Regions from separate parts of the Homo sapiens genome. Here regions 2 and 3 are each linked to region 1. The links come from fine-mapping of genetic effects on gene expression. A gene starts in region 1. Each other region holds a variant in brackets. All regions are shown on one strand. Distances are from middle to middle. Region 1 holds the start of PNKP (polynucleotide kinase 3'-phosphatase). Region 2 overlaps AP2A1 (adaptor related protein complex 2 subunit alpha 1). Region 3 overlaps PTOV1-AS1 (PTOV1 antisense RNA 1).

What was found. PIP is the estimated chance that this variant, and not a neighbour inherited with it, causes the effect.
Region 2: its variant is the best candidate, but not a certain one, in a credible set for the expression of PNKP in whole blood (INTERVAL, PIP 0.82).
Region 3: its variant is the best candidate, but not a certain one, in a credible set for the expression of PNKP in CD8 T cells (CEDAR, PIP 0.81).

The regions. Positions count from the first base shown.
Region 1 is chr19:49,865,549-49,869,548 of GRCh38, reverse strand. It overlaps PNKP (polynucleotide kinase 3'-phosphatase), which reads left to right and starts at 1,973. Exons shown (of 17, transcript NM_007254.4): 1 at 1,973-2,080; 2 at 2,332-2,495; 3 at 3,104-3,150. The coding sequence starts at 2,345. AKT1S1 (AKT1 substrate 1) reads left to right here. Exons shown (of 5, transcript NM_001098633.4): 5 at 1-510. RefSeq lists silencers at 1,837-2,136, 2,207-2,576 and enhancers at 1,736-2,517, 2,518-3,300, 3,301-4,000.
Region 2 is chr19:49,799,299-49,805,208 of GRCh38, reverse strand. AP2A1 (adaptor related protein complex 2 subunit alpha 1) reads right to left here. Exons shown (of 23, transcript NM_130787.3): 9 at 5,714-5,882; 10 at 5,443-5,580; 11 at 5,059-5,241; 12 at 4,151-4,248; 13 at 3,588-3,819; 14 at 3,320-3,487; 15 at 3,068-3,228; 16 at 2,204-2,260; 17 at 2,020-2,102; 18 at 1,833-1,922. LOC124904742 (a long non-coding RNA gene) reads left to right here and starts at 5,059. Exons shown (of 2, transcript XR_007067290.1): 1 at 5,059-5,604. RefSeq lists enhancers at 1,622-2,135, 2,136-2,651, 4,485-4,985. The variant C/G (reference allele first, on the strand shown) is at 2,572.
Region 3 is chr19:49,842,704-49,848,613 of GRCh38, reverse strand. PTOV1-AS1 (PTOV1 antisense RNA 1) reads left to right here. Exons shown (of 4, transcript NR_040037.1): 2 at 1,861-1,891; 3 at 3,722-4,298. Among named protein-coding and RNA genes, the nearest start is that of PTOV1, 5.5 kb to the left of the region's middle. The variant G/A (reference allele first, on the strand shown) is at 3,246.

The DNA.
Region 1 (4,000 bases):
TCTTTTTTTGATTGGCTCAAATCCTGTAAAGGGCTTGACCAGTCTCTACATAGTCACCGTCCGCTTTTCCTGAGTTCTCCCTCCCAATTGGCTCCAGCTTCCTGGGGGCGTGGCCAAGCCCTCCTCTTCCCAGAATTGGCCCGGGGCCTTCAATTTACGTTCTTTACACTACGGGGACTGGGGTCGTCTTTGCCCACGTCCCGACAACTTGTTCCCTGACCCCCTCAGGGATGGCCCCAAACTGTCCCTGCCTCTGGCACCCCCTTTCATTGGTTCCATCCATCCCCACAACAGCCTGCCAATCGAAGCCCGTCCCTGCATCCAGGATGGTACCAGCTCCCGCCCCTCGCCCCCCACCTCCACAGGTGCCTTAAAGGGCCCTCGTCCACCCAAGGTGGGGGGCAGGGGCCCTCACTCTCCGGCCCTGGTGTGGGGGAGAGAGTGAGGGGTTGGGGGATCGGCAGTTGGGAGGGGCGCTCTGAGATTAAAGAGTTTTACCTCTGAGATAAATGTGAAGTGTGTTGTGAGTGTTCATTCAACATTTTCTGAAACCGAATGGCAGCGTCTGATTATCAGTGAATAGCTGGGGGTTGGAATTACTGTGCCCATTTTATTTACTTTTTTGAGACAGGGTCCCACTCTCGCCCAGGTTCAAGCGATTCTCCTGCCTCAACCTCCCGAGTAGCTGGGATTACGCGCCACTGCCGCCCGGGTAATTTTTGTATTTTCAGTAGAAACAGGGTTTCATCATGTTGGTCAGGATGGTCTTGAACTCCTGACCTCAAATGATCCACCCGCCTTGGCCTCCCAAAGTGCTGGGATTACAGGCGTGAGCCACGGCGCCTGGCTTTGTGCCCATTTTATAGATATGAAGACACAGGTTCATGGGGTGGAGGAGAGCATCCCAGTCTTATGTGACCATGGAACCCAATCTTGAGGAGGTGAGTGTTGGAGACAGAGCCCACATATTCACCAGCAAAGCCAGGAACTCCAGCCGGGAGTCTTCTATTATAAAAGGACTGGAGCAACTGGGCTTGGTGCCTCACGCCTATAAGCCCAACACGCTGGGAGGCCAAGGCGGGAGGATCACATGACACCAGGAGGTCGAGATCAGCCTGGGCAGCACAGTGAGACCCCTTCTCCAAAGGGAAAAAAAAATGGCTGGAGGTTAGAAAGCAGGTGGAACCTCGTCCGAAATTAGGACTAGGTAAACGTAGTCCCACCAGACCACTACCGAAAGAATGCTAACACTAAATAAGACTTAAACGGATCTGAGCACTTTGGGAGGCCGAGGTGGGCGGATCACGAGATCAGGAGATCGAGACCGTCCTGGCTAACACGGTGAAACCCCGTCTCTACTCAAAATACAAAAAATTAGCTGGGCGTGGTGGCGGGCGCCTGTAGTCCCAGCTACTCGGGAGGCTGAGACAGGAGAATGGCGTCAACCCGGGAGGCGGAGCTTGCAGGTGAGCCGAGATCGCGCCACTGCACTCCAGCCTGGGCGACAGAGTGAGACTCCGTCTCAAAAAAAAAAAAAAAAAAAGACTTAAACAGGGCTCACTACCACCCATTTTTTAAAGCTTTTGTCACGTGTTAGCTCCTTTAATCGTCATGGTAACCCCACGAAGCGGAAACGATTATCCTTTTTATAGATGAGGAAACTAGAACATCGAGGGTGAAGCCAAAGAAGGACTTAGGGGCGCTGTCGGGGGCGGAGGTTTCCTCGACTGACAATGACCATCAGATGGGAAAAAAATCTTCCTCCCTGGGATGAAAATTAGAAGTCAAGGTGGAAAGAGGCAAATCTGCTAACGGAGGATCCAGTCCCCGCTACCGGCCTGAGCCTCGCGTTGCAGCAAGAGAGATGAAGGTCAGGGCTGCCGAGAGACCCTGGGGGCCGGGAGTCGGGGAAGGGGCGTGGCTGCTGTGGGAGGAGGCCAGGCCCCGCCCCCCACCCACGAGGGGACGAGTCATTTCCGTCCGCCGAGGAACCGACCGCCGCCGGCCGGGTTGCAGGCGGGGCACCTCGGGCAGGACCTCCCTGGTCGGAAGTGGCCGTGAGCCCAAGCCGCGGTCCCGGGTGAGTACGGGGCGGGGCGGAGGCATGTGCGAGGCTCTCTGCCTGTACGCTGGAAAGTGGGGATTGCAACTCGGGGAGGGATGGAGCACGCGTCGTCGCCTGGGAAACGGGTCGACCCGCGGAAGGCGAGCGGGTGGGACTTCCGGAGCAGTTAATGGTGGGGAAACTTTCTAGTGGATGTGGGAGGAGGCGGGACTTCCTGCAGCAAATTGGGGCTGTGCGCCGCTCAAGCCCGTTTACCTGCTCCCCAGGCCGGCACCCAGGATGGGCGAGGTGGAGGCCCCGGGCCGCTTGTGGCTCGAGAGCCCCCCTGGGGGAGCGCCCCCCATCTTCCTGCCCTCGGACGGGCAAGCCCTGGTCCTGGGCAGGGGACCCCTGACCCAGGTTACGGACCGGAAGTGCTCCAGAACTCAAGGTGAGCGGGGCCTGAGCTGGAGGGGGTGTGGCCTGCTGCAAAAGCGGGAACAATCCAGAGGGACGCTTGGCTGCTACGCGGGATTGCAGTGGTGCAGCCAGCCCCGAAGTCGGAAGGTGCTCTCTAGGGAGTACAGGAAGATAAAGTTTGTGCTTGATTTAGAATTAGCTAGATCCTTTGGGGGAGAGGGGATCGAGCCGATTTAGGGAGGATGTTCACTGCGCGGATGATGCTCAGGCCATCGGGAAATCCAGAAACAGGCGACGACCTTCGTCAAGAGAAAAATGATCCTGTGGAGAAAAGTAAATGTCGCTAGGTTGGGATGGATGGTAACAGGCCAAGCCCCGGACCTATATCTAGCCACATTTTTTGTCAAGGAGGAAACCAATTCTGTAGAGAAAAGTACCTCCCTGTCCCTTGCAAGGACCAGTGTCAGGCAATCCTAGTGCCACTATCTGGCTACTGCATGTCAAGGAGCCAATCCCATGTAGAAATAAACTGCCTCTTACTCCCTGGATGCTATAGCCTGAAGCAGGCCACACTCCCCAGAAATGAGGGACCCAATCACACAAGGATGCAAATCCTGACTCCACCCCTCCAATCCTCAGTGGAGCTGGTCGCAGATCCTGAGACCCGGACAGTGGCAGTGAAACAGGTATCAGTGCCTCTGCAAGGGCCAGCAAGGCCTGGGGATGGGATTTGGGGAGGAATTGCAAGCCGTCAGTGAAGGGGTACATTAGGAAAATCTGATTGGGGCCGGGCGTGGTGGCTCAAGCCTGTAATCCCAGCACTTTGGGAGGCCGAGGCGGGCGGATCGCTTGAACCCAGGAGTTCGAGACCAGCCTGAGCGACATGGTGAAACCTGTCTCTCTAAAAAATTAGCGGGAATGGTGGCGCGTCCTTGTAGTTCCTAATCGGGAGGCTGAAGCGGGAGGATCCCTTGAGCCCAGTAGGTCAAGGGTGTAGTGAGCAGTGATCACCACACTGTACTTCAGCCTGGGTGACAGAGCGAGAACCTGTCTCAAAAAAAGAAAAGAAAAAATATGGCTGGGAGAGAAGGGGATGTGTCCAGTAAAGAAAGAAGTGTTGCCTGTTTCAGTGGGGTGGGTACCTGTCCAAGACCTTAGAAATTGGACAAGGCGGCCAGGCGCGGTGGCTCACGCCTGTAATCCCAGCACTTTGGGAGGCTAGGCGGGCGGATCACCCGAGATCAGGAGTTTGTGACCAGCCTGGCCAACATGGCGAAACCCCATCTCTACTAAAAATACAAAAATTAGCGGGGCATGGTGGCGGGTGCCTGTAATCCCAGCTACTCGGGTAGCTGAGGCAGGAGAATCGTTTGAACCCAGGAGGCACAGGTTTCAATGAGCCAAGATTGCACCACTGCACTCCAGCCTGGGCGACAAAACAAGCCTATATCTCCAGGGGAAAAAAAAAAAAAAAAAAAAAAAAGATTCGGACAAGGCTGAAAACCTGTAACCGTTCCAAAGCCCGTTCCAAAGTGA
Region 2 (5,910 bases), 65 kb after region 1:
GCTCTGGAGGCTGACTTGGGTTTGAATCCCAGCTCTTAACCACCTGAGTGGCTGTGGGCAACCACTTAACCTCTCTTAGCCTCTGGACATGTGTAAGCCTGGGCAACATGGCAAGACCCCATCTCTACAAAAAAATTAGCCAGGCATGGTGATGTGCACCTGTAGTCCCAGCTACTTGGGAGGCTGAGGCAGGAGGATGCCTTGAGCCCAGAAGTTCGAGGCTGCAGTGAGCAGTGTTCATGCCACTGCATTCCAGCTTGGGTGAGTGAGGCCCTGTCTCAACACAAGGACATGTGTAAAATGTCCTCAGGAGTTGATGAAATAATCCAGCCGGGTGTGGCGGCTCACGCCTGTAATCCAGCACTTTGGGAGGCCAAGGTGGGGAGGATCACTGAGCCCAGGAGTTTGAGACCAGCCTGGGCAACATAGCGAGGCCTCAACTCTATTTAAAAAAAGAAAAGAAAAGAATCCATCACAAGTACTTGTCTGTGTGCCCGGCACATGGTAAGTACACAAAGATGGTAGCAATTAGTGTTATCATCATCTGCATCCGTGTCAGTAGCCCACTGGGAAGGCCTGGGTCTCATGTTCTTTTGTCACTGCCTCCACTGAGCTGCCTGCACGAGCCTCTGGAAATTATGAAAGAAGGAATTTTTTTTTTTTTTTTTCCTGAGACGGAGTCTCGCTGTCGCCCAGGCTGGAGTGCAGCGGCGCAATCTCGGCTTACTGCAACTTCGCCTCCTGGGTTCACGCCACTCTCCTGCCTCAGCCTCCCGAGTAGCTGGGACTACAGGCGCCCACCACCACGCCCGGCTAATTTTTTGTATTTTTAGTAGAGAAGGGGTTTCACCATGTTAGCCAGAATGGTCTCGATCTCCTGACCTCGTGATCCAACCACCTTGGCCACTCAAAGTGCTAGGATTACAGGCGTGAGCCACCGTGCCCGACCGAAGAAGGAATTTTTTCTTTTCTTTTTCTTTTTTTTGAGACTGTCGCCCAGACTGGAGTGTAGTGGTACAATCTCGGCTCACCACAACCACCACCTCCCAGGCTCAAGCGATTCTCCTGTCTCAGCCTCCTGAGTAGCTGGGATTACAGTCGCGTGCCACTACCACCCAGCTGATTTTTGTATTTTTAGTGGAGATGGGGTTTCACCATGTTGGCCAGGCTGGTCTTGAACTCCTGACCTCAAATGATCCACTGGCCTCAGCCTGCCAGTGCTGGGATTACAGGTGTGAGCCCCCATGCCCGGCCAGAAGGAGTTTTCAGGTCGAGCTTTTCTAATTTCATGAATGTGGCAATGGAGGCCCAGAGAACGGGCAGGGGGGACTGATACCTCCAGCCGCCCTTCCAGGGTTTTCCAGACACTCTGATCTTCACAATAACCCTATGAGGAAGAGGAGGGTCTACATACACTTCACAGCGGGGACAGGAGAGCCCAGAGAGGCAAAGTGACTCAGCCCAGATCAGGCCTGATCAGCGTCTGGACCCGCAGGCCTGGCTCCTGAGTGCAGGCGGTGCTGGCATCATGACATGGAGCCCAGTGGAGGACGATGGCAGGACACGGAAGGTGCCAGACAGGGACAAAATGAGGCCTGGAGCAGGTGGAGTTCTGGAAGTAAAGCCTCCCACACACCACTTCACTGTCATCCCCTGTCCTGGGGGAAGGAATCCCACCCCCATCTTAACAGATGCAGACACTCAATCTCAGAGAACTAATTGCGTGCCCAAGAGAGGCTGAAGAGAAGTGTGGACCTGGGTCAGCCGGCTTCCCCACGGTGAGGAAGGCCGACGTGGAGAGGCAGGAGGCTGGGCCGGGCCTGAGAGGATATGAGTCTGGAGGTCTCCCGGGTGAACCACAGTGGGTGAGAAATTCTGGAACTGCACCGAGGTCTTGTTGCCATAGAAGAGATACATGCGGCCTGCAGTAGGTGGGGGAGGCAGAGCTCCATCTGAGTCCCTCTGACCCCTTCCCCAAGGTCTCCCTCCGACCCATTCCCACAGTCCCCCGGGACACACCCAGGTTCTGTCGGAACTCTGACTTGACTCCGATCTGCAGCAGCTGGTTCTCGAACAGGACCCCGTTGTTCTTACACACAAACCTGAGGGGGCAGGGGGCGCAAGATGACGGGGGTGCCTGTCTGCACCTGGCCTGGGCTCCGCACCTGTCCCGTTCCCCTCCCCCACCACTCCCAGGACTCACTTATTCAGCAACTCATCGGCTTCCGGAATGGGAGGGCCGATGTCCTCAGGACCTGGGCTGGAGGCATGGAGCAGAGTGAGATGGGAAGGAACTTGGTGGGGAGGGGCAAAGGCCCAGAGCGATTGAGTGCGAGAACAAGCCCTAAGGACAGAACCCCAGAACCACATATCCAGACCCCTCACAGAGCCTCGAGGAACCTCGCATCCATCCAGCAGTGGCCTCCAATGGGAATAGAACCCTGGCCCGTGCCCCCGCATCGGCAGACACCAAGTTTCCCTTTCCTCCAAGTCCCTGCCTCTGCTGCTCATCAGGAACCCGTTGACGAGGGCTCCCAGTCCCCTAACTCTCCCTGGGGACACCCGAGTCCG[C/G]CCCCCCGACCGACCTCCCACCCCAGGCCACCCCTTACTCAGCAGCTGGAGCTGGGTCAGCCAGCAAAGCCATGGGGCTCTCGGGGGCAGGCGGCTCCAGCTCGCTGAGCCATCCAATCCCAGAGCAGACAAGAGAAGACAGGCGTGGCAGGCAGCCAATTCCACATAGGCAGCGAGAGGGCAGAAGAGAGACAGAGAGGGAGGGACGGAAGAGGGAAGGAGAGAAGGAGAAAAGGAAGAGCAGGCTGAGAAACGGTGACAGGAAAGGAGACAACGAAGGGTGGCCAGGGTCGGCGGAGTCCAGAGTGGCAGAGGGAGGGCGTGAGCAGGGAGGCTGGGGCAGGGGAGGCAGCAGCCAGGGCTGGCGAAGGCATCAGGATGGAGAGAGGAGCGAGTCGGGGGCGGGGGAGGGGCTCAGGGAAAACGGGGACAGAGGCCGAGAAGGGACAGCCCTGGGGGTGGCCGCGAGAAGGGGCCCGGGCCCAGGGGGTGCTACCTGAGGAAGGCCTCCTCGGGGGTGGGCCCCAGGCTGGGCTGGGCGGCCGGGCCATCGAAGACGTCCACCAGAAGGTTCCCTGCTCCTGCAGAAGCCGGGGGTGCTGCCGGGGGAGGGGCTGCCCGCAGCCCCAGGAGGTCGGCGGAGGGCGAGGGCGTCGACTGTAGGAAGCGCAGGTCACGGTGAGGACAGGCGGCGCCCGGCAGGACCCAGCCCCAGGCACCCTGGCAGGGCCCACCCCAGGGGACTCACCACAGTGCTGGGGGTGGGCTCCATGCCCCCGTTGATGTCGTTGCTGCTGGGGTCCCTCCGGCCATCGTCCAGGGCGCTGCCGGCCCCTGGCCCCTTCTTGCGTTTCAGCTTGGCCAGGATGGACGACTCGCGCTCGGGGAAGGGCGGCATCTCCTCCAGCACCGTGGCCTGGCGCGGTCGGGGTGGGGAAGGTCAGTTCGGGTCAGGAGGAGGGGAGGGCGGGAAGGGGGTGTGCAAGAGGGGTGGGGTGGGGGGACAGGGCTCTGACCAGGACGTCGGTGCTGGCCACTGAGCTGAGGGTGAGGTACTCCACGGCTCGCTGCTGCAGCTCCACGTCAGCATTGCGCAGCTGGGAGCCGGCCCGCAGGACGCCCTGGATGGTGGCCTTGGTCTCGGGGAAGAGGTTGATGAACTTGATGTAGGTGGACAGCAGCAGCGCCCGCGTGGCCACGCTGCACAGATGGAACTTGGAGTGGAGCAGGGAGAACTGCACTGGGGGGCTGTGTGCAGGAGTGGGTGTCAGCGGGGCCAGGTTCCACTGCCCTCTCCCAGAAACCCCCTCGAGAGGTGCCCCTCCCTAGGATGGACCCGTCCCAGGACCCCAAGCTGCTGGAGGGGAGTGGCCCTCCCCAGGCACCAGACAGGGGCCGCAGTCACACTCTGTCCACGATCCTGGGACTAAGCTCCTTTCTTACCCTGCTAGGTGGATTGGGGTGGAGGCCGAGAGGATGGGAGCCCATCACTGCCTGCCCTGAGACCCCTGGGGATCCCCCAAGCCCTGGACCCCTCAGAAGCATGTGTGTTCTCCCCTGCAGGCTGAGGCTCCCTCACCTGGAGCGGGGGTCCCCAGCAATCAGGTTCCCAAACTCCCCAAGGATGTAGCCGCCAACCTTCACCATGTTCTCGTGACAGGCAGGGGCCTGGAGCGCCTGAGTGGGGTGGGGAAGGGCGTGGAGAGGACAACAATGAGCGCCCTCTCCGGGATCGGTGGGTGCAGCCACCTACTGACTGGTGGAACACTGAAAGCTCTGCTGCAGGTGGGGTTATAGGTGGGAAACTGAGTCACAGAAAGGTTGAGTGACGGGCCCAAGCTCACACAGGAAGTAAAACAGGGCTGTGGGCCGGAAGCAGTGGCTCATGCCTGTAATCCTGGTACTTTGGGAGGCCGAGGCGGGCAGATTGCCTGAGCTCAGGAGTTTCAAACCAGCCTGGGTAACATGGTGAAACCCCGTCTCTACTAAAAATACAAACAAATTAGCTGGGTGTGGTGGCGCGTGCCTGTAGTACCAGCTACTGGGGAGGCTGAGGCAGGAGAATGGCTTGACGCTGGGAGGCCGAGGTTGCAGTGAGCCGAGATCGCACCACGGCACTCACTCCCCACTCCAGCCTGGGCAACAGAGTGAGACTCCGTCTCCAGAAACAAACAAACAAACAAACAAAAAACAGGACTGTGTGGGGCCCCTTTCCTGGGGCAGAGGGAAACTACCGAGATCCGGGGGCCAGGACTGCACACTGGGTGCCCCATGCCCATGCCCTGGGGACTCCTCACATCAGGCCCATGAGACCATAGCCCTGGGTCCCCTGGGTTGGCCCAGAGAGGCAGAGGCCCCATTTTGAGGTCACGGCAGTGCAGGAGAAGGAGGGTGGCTGCGGGCTGGCAGGCGCCACGGCCCCGGCCATCCTTGCTCTGCCTCTAGGTCCTGTCGTGGGGTCATAGGGTCAGGGTCAGGGATGCTGACCTCAAAGACGGTCTTGGCGGCATAGCCCTGGACGTCATCACGGTTGGTGACGATCTGTAGCACACGGTACCACACCTCCTCACTCACGTAGTCGCCCGCAATGCGGATGAGGTTGAGGATGGTGTCCACGTACCAGCTGTAGTCCACGGCGTACTTCTCGGCCAGGATGGCCACCTTCAGGACCTGCCGCCGGGGCGTGTGAGAGAGAGTGTGCCGCAGGCCATGTCGGGCTTTCACTCACCTGGATCTGGGCTCACCACTGCCCCCATCTGGAGACCCAGGAGTCCAGGCCCCAGCCCCTCCTCCCTTAGACTTAGGAATCCAGGCCCCCAGCCACCTCCTGCCTCAGACCCAAGAGTCCAGCCCGCACCCCACAGCACTCACGATCTCCTCGCGGATGGCGTAGTCTGCCGTCTCCAGGTACCGCAGCATCTCCGACACGATCTGCTTGGCATTGCTCCGGTCACACATGGCGTAGAGGAGGTCAGCCGCCCGCTGCCGCACGCTGACGTCCCGCTCCGTCTGAGGGCGGAGAGCAGAGCCCAGGTGTGTTTTAGACTCCCTGTTGGCACAGGGTTGGCCACCCAAGGGCCTCTGAGCCTCTGGTCTTTCTGAGGGGGGTGGCAGGCCCGGGGTGGGCTCCAAGGGCTCACACCTTGAGGGCATTGATGACGGTGTCAATGTGCGTCTTGACGGCTTCATGGGAGAACTCGGAGCTGGCCAGCGTGCACATGCTCTCCAGGGCCAGGTAGCGCAGGTTGGTCTCCCGGTGCTGCAGGAACTGGCCCAGCTGGTTGCAGGCCCGAACCAGGAGGTTGGGCTCACTGCCAGCAGGGGCCACAAGAGAGGGAT
Region 3 (5,910 bases), 22 kb after region 1:
TCCAGCCTGAGCAACAAAGCAAGACTCCATCTCTTAAAAAAAAAAAAATGCTGCCAAGTTAGGTACAAGTAAAGCAACTGTAAATTATTTAATGAAAAAGCTTATAAAAACCTAGGAAGACTCAGCCCCCAGTTTGTTTCATAAATGTCTTTAGGTTCTCAAGCCACTTAAAAAAATGACTCATTGTGGTTTGTGGGTGGAGCTTATACAAGAATGTGATGTTCTACTGGGCGCAGTGGCTCATGCCCGTAATCCCAACACATTGGGAGGCTGAGGTGGGAAGATTGCTTGAGCCCAGGAGCTCGAGACCAGCCTGGGCAACACAGTGAGACTCCCACCTCTACAAAAACAACAATAATTTTCTAGGCATGGTGGCATGCACCTGTGGTCCCAGCTACTCAGGAGGCTGAGGTGGGAGGATCTCTTGAGTCCAGGAGATTGAGGCTGTAGTGAGCCGTGTTCACACCACTGCACTTCAGTCCAAGTGACAAAGTGAGACCCTGTCTCAAAAACAAGAATGTAATGTCGTGTGCTAACTAGGAGACCAATACTGAAAGAAAGGGTCTTGGTCCTACGTACAAGAGATGTCTGTTTAAATGTTCTTGGTTAAAATAAGATGTTTAAAGTGTTAAGATGGCCGTTAGTGCTATTTGCCATATATTTCTAGCTCCACACTTGGCCAGCATTTGACCCCATTTAGCTTGAGTGCGGCCATGTGATTAATTTTGGCCAGTAAGGTGTGAGGCCATGTGATTACATCTGGCCAATGAGATATGAGCAGAAGTGACACATGTGAATTCAGCAAGAGCACATAATTGCTAATGGAAGACCAGACCCCTCTGCCTTTACTATGTCCATTGGCAACCTTCATGATCTGTCCGCACGGGCTCCAAGCTGACACTCAATACAGCACGAGTGACAAAATCCACCTTGGCTGTTTCAAGCCACTGCAATCTGGGGGTAATCTGGCCTTTCCTGATATACACAATTTTTTTTTCCCAAATAATCCCAGTTTAACCAACATTTGTTAAACCAATCAACTACCAAGTCTGAGTTTCCTAGAAGAACAAACTGGCAGTACATATAGGTTGGATGACATAGGCTAGGACACAATGACAACATGGACAAAGTGTTTTATACTGGCCGGGCACGGTGGCTCATGCCTGTAATCCTAGCACTTTGGGAGGCTGAGGCAGGTGGATCACCTGTTGTCAGGAGACCAGCCTGGCCAACCTGGTGAAACCCCATCTCTACTAAAAATACAAAAATTAGCCAGACGTGGTGGCAGGCGCCTGCAATCCCAGCTACTCAGGAATACAAATACAGTCTCCTGATTGATCCTCCAATTCAAGCAGGAGAATTGCTTAAACCCGGGGAGGCGGAGGTTGCAGTGAGCTGCACTCCAATCTGGGCGACAGAGCGACATTCTGTCTCAAAAAATGCTAATAGGCTGGGTGCGGTGGCTCACACCTGTAATCCCAGCACTTTGGGAGGCTGAGGCGGGCAAATCATGAGGTCAGGAGTTCAAGACCAGCCTGGCCAACATGGTGAAACCATGTCTGTACTAAAAATACAAAAAATTAGCTGGGCATGGTAGTGGGTGCCTGTAATCCCAGCTACTTGGGAAGCTGAGGCAGGAGAATCACTTGAACCCAGGAGGCGGAGGTTGCATTGAGCTGAGATTGTGCCACTGCACTCCAGCCCAGGTAACAGTGTGAGACTCCGTCTCAAAACAAACAAATAAAAAAGATAATAAAATGCTTTATGCTAAGAAATGGGAGTAAGATCATCTCTGGCTTGGATTTTTCTTTTCTTTCTTTGCAATTACAAAATAGTTTATGGCTGATTTTTTTTTTAAAGGTCTGCCTGATACATGCTTTGCAAACTCTAGGTATTTCAACTTTGTCATCATCGTGTGTGTCCAGACGCAGAGGCTCACACCTGTAGTTTCAACACTTTGGGAGGCTGAGGTTGGAGCATTGCTTGAGCCCAGGAGTTTGAGACCAGCCTGGGCAACATAGCAAGACCCCATCTCTACAACTATAAAACTAGCCAGGCGTGGTGTTACATGTCTCTAGTCCCAGCTACTCTGGAGGCTGAGGTAGGAGAATTACTTGAGGCCAGGAGTTCGAGACCAGCCTGAGCAACAGAGTAAAACTCTGTCTCTACAAAAAATACAAAAATTAGCTGGGCATGGTGGTGCGTGTCTGTAGTCCCAGCTACTCGACAAGTGGAGGTGGGAAGACTGCTTGACCCCTCTAGGCAGAGGCTGCAGTGAACCAAGGTCATGCCACTGCACTCCAGGGTTGACAGAGTGAGACCCCTGGCAATAATAGTAGTTAATATTTCTCAAGAACTTCATGTCTGAACTCACTGAATTCTCACACAGCAGGCCATGAGTTCAACAATCTTTTAATCCCCACTCCACAGATGGGGAAACCAAGGATCTGGAAGCAAAAGCCTGACGTCACAGGCTGCGGAGACACGGGACAGGGACAGGGCCCAGGTTCTTAATCTCAGTAGGTGTTGGCCTCCACTTTGTGGAATAAACAAGGGGCCAAGCCCCTCGGGCTTGGGACCGTCTTACCCTCGTCACTGCCGCGCTTCTCAGCCTCTCTGCCACCATCTGCCCTCCAGCACAGACCATGCTGAGTGTTCCCAGATTGTAAAAGACATACATCTGCCCTATCCCCAAACCCAGCGTCCTGGGTTTGAGATTACAGGCAGGAGCCACTGTGCCCAGCCCCCTGGGCTATTTTTAAAAATAAATAAAATGAAGGCTTTTTGTCCAAACTTCAAGATATGTTGTTAGATTGAAAAACAAACAAAAAAATGATAGAATAAAGGAGATTGCCACTGGATAGAAAAGCCAGAAAATCAATCAGTTTCTCTATTTGCTTGTACCTGCTTATACGTCTCTCTGAAAAGACACTTAAGCAATTGGTAACTGATCTCTAGAGGGAGCTGAGAGAGACTGCATTGGTTGGTTTCTGGAGCCCCTCCAAGTGTGAACCATAGGAAGGTTTCTCGTATATGCGAAACATGAATACAACATTTTTTGGGTCATGTAAATAAAGTTGGCATACTTAGTTTTGAAATTCTGCTGCTGGGAATGCATCCCATAGGAATGCCTGCACAAGTGGGTTAAAAAAATACACATTCATCCTCTCCAGCATGTCTGATAATAGTGAAAAACTGGCCGGGCGTGGTGGCTCACGCCTGTAATCCCAGCACTTTGGGAGCCC[G/A]AGGTGGGTGGATCACTTGAGGTCAGGAGTTCGAGACCAACCTGGGCAACATGGCAAAATCCCATCTCTACTAAAAATACAAATATTAGCTGGGTGTGGTGGTATGTGCCTGTAATCCCAGCTACTCGGGAGGCGGAGGCTGCAGTGAGCTGAGATCACACCAGTGCACTCCAGCCTGGGCAATAGAGCGAGACTCCATCTCAAAAAAAAAAAGAAGAAATAAAAGAAAAACTGGACAGGCCCTCAACTGGCAGGGTGCAGTGTGGTGGGCACCCTGAAAGACAGCCCCCATGACCCTCACCTCCTGTCTGCACTGTCCTCTCAGCTTGAGTGTGGGCAGAACCTAGCAACTTGTTGTAATGTACAGAATATAGCAAGAGTGACAAGATATCACTTCCAAGATTGGGTTACAAAAGACTGCAGCTTCCACCTTGGGCGTCCTCTCTCATTTCTGTTTTTCTTTTTTTTTGAGACAGTTTCACTCTTGCAGCCCAGACTGGTGTGCAATGGTGTGTTCTTGGCTCACTGCAACCTCCACCTCCTGGGTTCAAGCGATTCTCCTGCCTCAGCATTCCGAGTAGCTGGGATTTCCCAGATGCCTGCCACCACGCCCAGCTAATATTTTGTATTTTTAGTAGAGACAGGGTTTCACCATGTTGGCCAGGCTGGTCTCAAACTCCTGACCTCAGGTGATCCACCCGCCTTGACCTCCCAAAAGTGCTGGGATTACAGGCATGAGCCACCGCACCCAGCCCTTCTCATATTTCTAGAGAAGCTGGATGCCACATTGCAACTGCAAGGTGCCCTGTGAAGAGGCCTGCAACGGCGAGAAAACAAGGGAGACCTCCAGCCAACAGCTAGGAACTGAGGCTCTCGGCCCCATCACCTGTGAGGAACTGAATCCTGCCAACAGGCATGTGAGTGGGCTGGAAGTGGGCCCTCCTCACGGAGCCTTCCGATGACTGCACAGCCCCAGCCACCAGCTCGACCGCAACCCCGAGAGCCTGGGAGCCAGCAGCTCAGCCAAGCCTGGATTCTTGACCCCCAGCAACGGTGAGGCAATAAATGCTTCTTGTTTTAAGCCACTCGGTGGTGGGGTTTGTTACACAACAGATAACTTATAGGCAGGATGGCTCGTGGAACTGAAATGCGTCCATTTAGTGCACTACCTGAGGCCACCATGAGAAGTGGGGACATAGAGGAACAGGTAATTAACAGTGCAGGCAGGCCAGGTCGGTGGCTCACACCTGTAATCCCAGCATTTTGGGAGGCTGAGGTGGGCAGATCACCTGAGGTCAGGAGTTTGAAACCAGCCTGGCCAACATGGTGAAACCCCATCTCTACTAAAAATACAAAAATCAGCTGGGCATGGTGGTGGGCGCCTGTAATCCCAGCTACTCGGAAGGGTGACGCAGGAGAATCGCTTGAACCTGGGAAGTGGAGGTTGCAGTGAGTCGAGACTGCGCCACTGCATTCCAGCCTGGGCAACAGAGTGAGACTCCGTCTCAAAAAAAAAAAAAAAAAAAAAACCCGAAAAATTAGCCAGGCATGGTGGCTCCTGCCTGTAATCCCAGCTACTTGGGAGGCTGAGAATAGCTTGAACCTGGGAGGCAGAGGTTGCAGCGAGCTGAGATCACGCCACTGCACTCCAGCCTGGGCAACGGAGTGAGACTCTGTCTATAAATAAATAAATAAATAATGGCCATTACTTTGGTTGGAAGAAAAAAAAAAGCAAGCTAAAGAACAAAGAAATTGACTCACTTATACAAAAAAATTAAACTATAAATATATCCACAACCGCATGCATGTAAACCCAAATGCAGAACTGGTACATCAGCCTCTAGGGAGGTAAGTGGTTTGCTCAGGGTGTGTGTTTGGGCAGGAGAGGCGAGAGTGAGGTGTGATAGGGTAGTTCCACTTTTTGTTGTTGTTTTTGAGACAGAGTCTTGGTCTGTCTCCCAGGCTGGAGTCAGTGGCACAATCTCTGCTCACTGCAGCCTCTGCCTCCTGGGTTCTAGTGATTCTCGTGCCTCAGCCTTCTGGGTAGCTGGGATCACAGGCACATGCCACCATGCTGGCTAATTTTTGTATTTTTAGTAGAGATGGGGTTTCACCCTGTTGGCCAGGCTGGTCTCGAACTCCTGACCTCAGGTGATCTGCCCGCCTTGGCCTTCCAAAGTGCTGGGATTACAGGCGTGAGCCACCATGCCTGGTGGTACTTCCACTTTTTATTCCACACATTTCAGCGCCCTTTCATTTTGGGAAACTGTTGTAGTGTGTGTAACTCAATATATTTTAAAAGTTAATTTTTTTTAAATGCCAAGATGGTAAGAAAATACATGTTAGTGTTTTGTGTACCTTGAAACAAATATATTCTTAACACCCCTTTTGAGAAGGTGTCCTTTTTCTCATAATCCTTTGGAGGTGGGTGGGCATTTTCTTTCACCCCGAACAGGTTTCCAACTATTAATATGTTGGTGTTTTAGCATTTTTGCCTCAACAATCACTTTTTTCCAATTACGTCCTACCACCTGCTCCTTTGCAAGAATTTTCATGAATCCCCAGTCTTGCCTCCAGTCATGATGCATGATTCAAAAGCAAACTGGTCAAAAAGAAAATGTTTCCAACAAGTCACTCACTCAATTATAACCTTTCTGGACACAAG